Linked DNA regions of Homo sapiens. Each later gene encodes a partner of the first gene's protein in a complex. Each region holds a gene or a part of one and is shown in the gene's direction. Other genes may lie near its edges.

Region 1 (3,750 bases):
CCTAGGTTGCAGGCGACCCGCGGGGTGGGGCACACCATTCAAAGAAGGGGAGGGATTGAGGTTTGCATCAAAACAAATACCCCTGCCTTTGCAAAGGCCATAACTAAGTAATCCAGAAAAAGAAATGCAGGCGGAGAATAGCAGCCTCCCTCTGCCAAGTAAGAGGAACCGGCCTAAAGGACATTTTCTCTCTCTCTCCTCCCCTCTCATCGGGTGAATAGTGAGCTGCTCCGGCAAAAAGAAACCGGAAATGCTGCTGCAAGAGGCAGAAATGTAAATGTGGAGCCAAACAATAACAGGGCTGCCGGGCCTCTCAGATTGCGACGGTCCTCCTCGGCCTGGCGGGCAAACCCCTGGTTTAGCACTTCTCACTTCCACGACTGACAGCCTTCAATTGGATTTTCTCCATCTAGCGGAGCCGGGGGCTGCCTGGAAAGATCGCTCCAGGAAGGACAAAGGTCCGGAAGTTGTGGGACCTTAGCAGCTTGGGCTCCCCGGATCACCCCCAAATGATCATTTCGGAATGGAGCCCCAGTTTTCACTAGGATGCCATGGGCTCTAAAATATACAGCTATGAGTTCTCAATGTTTCGAGATCCAAAAGTCTCAGACCTCAATGCTTTGTGCATCTTTTATTTCAGGGATTCCCTACGCCCAGCACCGGGTGGATGTGCAAAGAAGTACGCTTTAGGCCGGCTCAAGGTTCCCCAAAGCTCCACTCCTCTGCCTAGGCGTTCAACTTTGAGTTCGGATGGTCCTAACATCCCCATCATCTACACCCAGGTCTCCCAACAATGCAACTCCTATGATGATCCCTCTAGCCAAGCTTCCATCCCACTCACCCCCAAACTCGCTAAGTCCCCACTGCCCCACCCCCAGCCCCAGCGATTTTCCCGAGCTGAAAATACACGGAGCCGAGAGCCCGTGACTCAGAGAGGACTCATCAAGTTCAGTCAGGAGCTTACCCAATCCAGGGAAGCGTGTCACCGTCGTGGAAAGCACGCTCCCAGCCCGAACGCAAAGTGTCCCCGGAGCCCAGCAGCTACCTGCTCCCTGGACGGTGGCTCTAGACTTTTGAGAAGCTCAAAACTTTTAGCGCCAGTCTTGAGCACATGGGAGGGGAAAACCCCAATCCCATCAACCCCTGCGAGGCTCCTGGCACAAAGCTGGACAGTCGCCATGACAAGTAAGGGCAAGTAATCCGCCTGCCGGAGGAAGCAAAGGAAATGGAGTTGGGGAGGAGGGTGCAGAGTCAGGATTCTCGCCGACCTGGTGCCGTAGATACTAACATTTTGGGGTGGAAAATTCTGCAAGCCAGAGCTGTGAGGGCAGAATTGGTGGAAATCATTTTGGAGGAATCCTGCATTGTGTCAAATATGAAGGGTGGAAGGAAGAAAGCTTTTGCGTTTGCTCTCAGCTGGATCCTTTCTTCTCATCAGTTAAAATGTCATTTTTTAGGAAGGCTTTCCGTAATATCACACCCTAACGTTTTCTCCCAGATACTTTATATCACACCATCTTATTTAATCTCCTTCACAACCCTTATCACTCTGATAAGATTTATTTGTTCATTGCTTTCAGTACATGGAAACGTAAGCCTTATGAGGATATAGAATTTTTCTACTATCTTATTCATTGTTGTATTCCTGAGTGCCTATATCAGTGCTGGGTAGCAAGTAAGAGCTCGATAATAAATATTTTTTGAATGAGGGAGACAGGTCTGAAGCCTGGAGAATGAGATGCAGAAGAGGTGCAAGACCTGCTGCGCCCTCTGCAGGCGGCGGGGGGGCGGTGCAGGTGCTTTAAGAATTACCGCGGGACTCGGTAGGGGGAGCGTAGGCGCTTCTCGCCAAGATAGAAGCGTTCAGACTACAACTCCCAGCAGCCACGAGGAGCCCTAGGGCTTGATGGGAACGGGAAACCTTCTAACCTTTCACGTCCCGGCTCCGCGGGTTCCGTGGGTCGCCCGCGAAATCTGATCCGGGATGCGGCGGCCCAATCGGAAGGTGGACCGAAATCCCGCGACAGCAAGAGGCCCGTAGCGACCCGCGGTGCTAAGGAACACAGTGCTTTCAAAAGAATTGGCGTCCGCTGTTCGCCTCTCCTCCCGGGAGTCTTCTGCCTACTCCCAGAAGAGGAGGGAAGCACAGGTGGGTTTCTTTAGCTCTGCGTCGGATCCCTGAGAACTTCGAAGCCATCCTGGCTGAGGCTAATCTCCGCTGTGCTTCCTCTGCAGTATGAAGACTTTGGAGACTCAACCGTTAGCTCCGGACTGCTGTCCTTCAGACCAGGACCCAGCTCCAGCCCATCCTTCTCCCCACGCTTCCCCGATGAATAAAAATGCGGACTCTGAACTGATGCCACCGCCTCCCGAAAGGGGGGATCCGCCCCGGTTGTCCCCAGATCCTGTGGCTGGCTCAGCTGTGTCCCAGGAGCTACGGGAGGGGGACCCAGTTTCTCTCTCCACTCCCCTGGAAACAGAGTTTGGTTCCCCTAGTGAGTTGAGTCCTCGAATCGAGGAGCAAGAACTTTCTGAAAATACAAGCCTTCCTGCAGAAGAAGCAAACGGGAGCCTTTCTGAAGAAGAAGCGAACGGGCCAGAGTTGGGGTCTGGAAAAGCCATGGAAGATACCTCTGGGGAACCCGCTGCAGAGGACGAGGGAGACACGTAAGTGGTGATGGCAGTGGAGTGTGGAGTCTGGGGAGATGAAGTGTGAGGTCGATCTGTCCTCTGGTCCTGAGACCCACTTCTCCAGGCCTCTGCCCCCTTTGCTTGGCGACCCAGGTTTATTGTCCCCCATCTTCCTTTCAGCGCTTGGAACTACAGCTTCTCCCAGCTGCCTCGATTTCTCAGTGGTTCCTGGTCAGAGTTCAGCACCCAACCTGAGAACTTCTTGAAAGGCTGTAAGTGGTAAGGATAACAACGGGGCAGGGAGCTGACCACCCCCGAGATTTTCACTGTAAAACAGTCCAGTTTTCTAGGAGAGGGATGCCCCAGAGCTGGGAGAAGCGGCACGTAGCCCTTTTAGACTGAGCTTACATTTTATCTAGCAGTTTGTGTCTTCTACTTCCCTCAAGGATTCAGGGGGGCTTACCTACCCCAGAGGCAGGCTCAGCCCTAGCCCTACACTTGAAAAGCATAGGTCTGGCCAGCTTTCTAACTCTCCCCTGTTTCTAGGGCTCCTGACGGTTCCTGCATCTTGACCAATAGTGCTGATAACATCTTGCGAATTTATAACCTGCCCCCAGAGCTGTACCATGAGGGGGAGCAGGTGGAATATGCAGAAATGGTAAGGACTGGGGCTAACTGCCTCTTCATCAATGCTGCACATTTAAGTCCTTCGTGGAGATGGAAAAAGTGTAGTCCAAGTGTTTCCTGTTCACAAACGGGACTGTTTTTCAAGACGAGTTTCCACATGTAGCGTTTTCTGCCCCGAATTCTGAAGTTATTTAGAGAGAGGTTTCCCCTTTCTTTAATTAGGAATCTGTGTTTTTTGCTAAAAAGTAGTGAATTTCTTGTGGCAGCATATATATATTTCTATTTCTTATTTTTTTGAGACAAGGTCTTGCTCTGTCACCCAGGCTGGAGTGCTGTGGTGTGATCTCGGCTCACTGCAACCTCTGCCTCCCGGGTTCAAGCGATTCTCCTGCCTCAGCCTCACAAGTAGCTGGTATTACAGGCGCACGCCATCACACTCGACTAATTTTTATAGTTTTAGTAGAGACGGGGTTTCGCCATGTTGGGCAGGCT
Region 2 (3,750 bases), on another chromosome or scaffold:
TGGAGTGCAGTGGCACGATCTCATCTCACTACAACCTCCGCCTCCTGGGTTCGAGCAATTCTCGTGCCTCAGCCTTTCAAGTAGCTGAGATTACAGGTGAGCGCCACCATGCCCGGCTGATTTTTGTATTTTTGGTGGAGGTGGGGTTTCACCATGTTGGCCAGGATGGTCTCAAACTCCTGGCCTCAAGTGATCCATCCGCCTTGGCCCCCCGAAGTGCTGGGTTTGCAGGTGTGAGCCACCACGCCCAGCCCCTGGAAATTCATTTCTTATCTTTCCTATATATATCCATACATTCTAACCTTGTTTTTGAAATTATACATGAATTCAGAACATTTGATATCATCTTTCATCTTAATTGCTCATTTGTTCCTTAATGAAAATAATAGTATTTTTCAGTTAAGTTGTCAGAAAACATGAAGGCTTCATCCTTTAAAAAACTACAGAAGGTGAGTCAAACTTATGATACTTGGGATCCTTGGTTTTATAAGGGAACGACCTATCTTAGGAAAGTCCTACTTGGAGCACTTGAGACTTTCCCAACATATCACTAGTAAAGCTCTTAAATTGAAATGTTCCATGCTATAAATATTGAACACACTAATCTTTAAAAGTGATTTATTTGATACAGCCTTTAGAAAGTAAAAATTACAACTTTTGCTCATATTACCAAAATCTGTAAACTGCTAGAGTAAGAGTTTTTTGTTTATGTAAAACTCTCTTATTGAAAAGCTTTCATGACCAAACATTCTAGGTAGAATCTTAATTTGTAAAACTTACGTTATTTGAGAGGCGGTAGGTACTAAGTGATTTCACAAGAACTTCAATAACATGATATATGCTATGAAGGAAAAATACAGGTTGCCATGAGAAGCTTTGTAGTGCCACCAGCTTTTTAAGTCTGTAGTGTTTCCTGAAAAAGTGAGCTTGAAGCTGAGGCCTGATTGTTGACTAACAGTGATTTCCACACCTGGTTGCATGTCAGAGTTATCTTGGGGAGCTTTTAAGAAGATGTATCTCTAGTTTCCACTTCTGGAAATTTGACCTAGGAGCTCTTAAGTAGCGTCCAGGATTCAATTTTAAAAAGGAAAAGCACTTGGATAATTTTGATGTAGTTAGTCAAACACTTGAGAGCTGCTGAGCTAGTCAAAGAGGAAGAGGAAAGTGCATTCCAAGTAGAGAAAACAGTATGTGCAGTCTCTGAGAGCAGGCAACTGAAAGGATACAAAAAGGCAGACATATAGGTTAGGAATGAAACATTTAGGAGAGGTGGGGAAAGTTGTGAATTAAGACCAGAGAGGTAGGAGGGGGCTTGATTAACTTAAGCCTTCAGGTGACAGGAAAGAGTTTAGACCTTAGTTTCAATTGTGTTTTATTTTTGAATAATGGGATAACACAGTTAAATGAATGCTTCAAAAGAATACTGGGAAGATAAAAAGGCACCTTGGGAAGCGGTCAATATTGTGTGAGAGGGGCCAGATAGGAGGCTATAATAGTAGTTCTAAAAGAGATGGTATTTTGGACTCGGTAGTGACAGTGGAAATGGAAAAAATGGATTTATGAAAGATACAGGAAGTAGAATCAATAGGACTTGGTAATTGACTAGCTATTGAAATTGAAGAAGTAAAAAAATCACCATCTTTCAGATGTCTGACATCAACATCTTTGTGGGTGATGGTACCAATTAATGAAATGGGCAACAATGCAGAGGAGGGGGATTGGGGGAAGATAATGAGTTGGGTTTTGGACATAGTGAGGTTGAGGTACTTGTGAGACAGTCATGGTCAGTTTAAAGGAAGAGTCTAGACTGGAAATAGAATTGGGAATTTGTTAAGTATACAGACAGTACATGAAACATTGTAGGAAGAAAGAATGAAAGGAAAAGAGCACCTATGAAGAGTTTTGGGGCACCTCCTAAAACTAAAGGTCTGGTAGTGGAAACTCAGAAGTAATTGCCAGTTAAAAAAAAAAAGGCAAACCACAAGCCTGTCATAAAAGTGGTATCACAAAAATTGAAAGAGTGTTTCCAGGAGGGACTGCTCAGCTATGGCAAAAGGCTGCAAAGTGTTCATTGGAAGACAGCCACATAGACATCAGGGAGTCATGGAGCCAGTGCATTGGTGGGCCCGGGAGCCAGAATGGATTAGGAAATGAGAGGGAGACAATAGCTTGTTGTCAGCATATGGCTACTAGTTGTAGAAACCTTGGCAAGTACTCAGGGGATTGACTGCTTCTGGCGTGCCTGGAGCTGTTGAGCCCAGAAAGAAACAATGCTGAAAAGGGATTCTCATCTTGTGACCTGAAAAAAAAATGCTGGTAATAGCCACTTAAATTCATCAGAATCCCTTAAATCACTTAAATTTCTCAGAATTATTTATTTGGGGGCTTATTGTTTAGTTTTTTGGGTTTTTGCTTTTTAATTACAGATACTAACTTGAGTACATTCTACCTCTCCCGGTTTCCATACCCCCTGCTATGTTGAGATTCAGCCCTCCTTACCCAGCCTGCGTTATTGTGAAGTTTGTAGACCAGTGCTCTCCACTTGAACTTTTTGTAGTGATGGGAATCCCTGCCCAGTAAAGTAGCTCTTAGCCACATGTAGCTATTGAGCACGTGAAGTGTGGCTCATGTGACTCAGGAACTGAATTTTTAAACATTAATTAATGTAAATATAAGCCACCTGTGGCTGGTGGCTGCCATATTGAACAATGTAGATCTAGACAATATTTTTGAGATGATGGGCTGTGAAGGGAAGATGAGTAATAAGGTGATATCTAGAGAGGGATTCAGAGATCTTATTATAAGTCATATATTACAGTTTTGAAATCCTCGTGTGTTTTATGTAGAAGAACTATGATACAATATGCTCTTTACATCTCATTATTTGAGAAATGTCCTCTTTAACCCCAATTATAGGATGGGTATAGTTTCTGTATATCCTTCATTACTTTGTGTGTTCAGAAGATACCCTTTTGATCCTTTATTAAAGACTTGAAACAACTAGTATGCGAATGCTTTATTTTGAATTTTAATGCTGTGTTTTTTAATAGTTTTATTTTTCTTACGGCAGTTCTGTTGAGTGGAAATGTTAAATAATCTATTTCTAAAGAGAAATGATATTGAATTGGTCTTGATTTTTTAATATGCATGTAATGCTTATTGTGTGCCAAAGTACAAGTGCCTTATATACATCACTTTTTTGATCATCACACAAACATGTGAGATAGATACTCTATTCTCTACATTTTACAGATAAGGAAACTAAGGTAAACTAACACAGGAATAGAAAACCAAACACCACATGTTCTCACTCGTAAGTGAGAGTTGAACAGTGAGAACACATGGACACAGGGAGGGAAACATCACATACCTGGGCCTGTCGGGGGATGGGGGGAAGGGGAGGGAGAGCAATAGGGCAAATACCCGATGCATACGGGGCTTAAAACCTAGATGATGGGTTGATAGGTGCAGCAAACCACCATGGCACATGTGTACCTATGTAACAAACCTGCACGTTCTGCACATGTATCCCAGAACTTAAGGTAAAAAAAAAAAAAAAAAAAAAAAAGAAACCTAAGTTAGTAAGAAATTAAGTCTCTACCCAGGGATATGTAGTAGAAAGTGGTAGGATTGGGGTTTGAACCCAGGCAGTTTTGACTCTATCATGTAGCTTCTTAATGATTATATTATACTGTCCCCCAAGTTGTATACTAATTGCTTCTATTATGTTTCCAGTTTTATATAGACCCA

The links.
Region 2: WRAP53 (region 1) and GAR1 share a complex: the UniProt entries of both Homo sapiens proteins name them as parts of the telomerase holoenzyme complex.

Annotation. Positions count from the first base shown.
Region 1 is NC_000017.11:7,686,413-7,690,162, forward strand, and holds the start of WRAP53 (telomerase Cajal body protein 1), read left to right. Parts: upstream 1-2,064; 5' UTR 2,065-2,149; exon of another isoform or gene 2,150-2,235; 5' UTR 2,236-2,236; coding exon 2,237-2,667; intron 2,668-2,811; coding exon 2,812-2,910; intron 2,911-3,177; coding exon 3,178-3,289; intron 3,290-3,750. UniProt on the Homo sapiens protein: RNA chaperone that plays a key role in telomere maintenance and RNA localization to Cajal bodies. Specifically recognizes and binds the Cajal body box (CAB box) present in both small Cajal body RNAs (scaRNAs) and telomerase RNA template component (TERC).
Region 2 is NC_000004.12:109,818,612-109,822,361, forward strand, and holds part of GAR1 (H/ACA ribonucleoprotein complex subunit 1), read left to right. Parts: intron 1-389; coding exon 390-449; intron 450-3,735; coding exon 3,736-3,750. UniProt on the Homo sapiens protein: Required for ribosome biogenesis and telomere maintenance. Part of the H/ACA small nucleolar ribonucleoprotein (H/ACA snoRNP) complex, which catalyzes pseudouridylation of rRNA.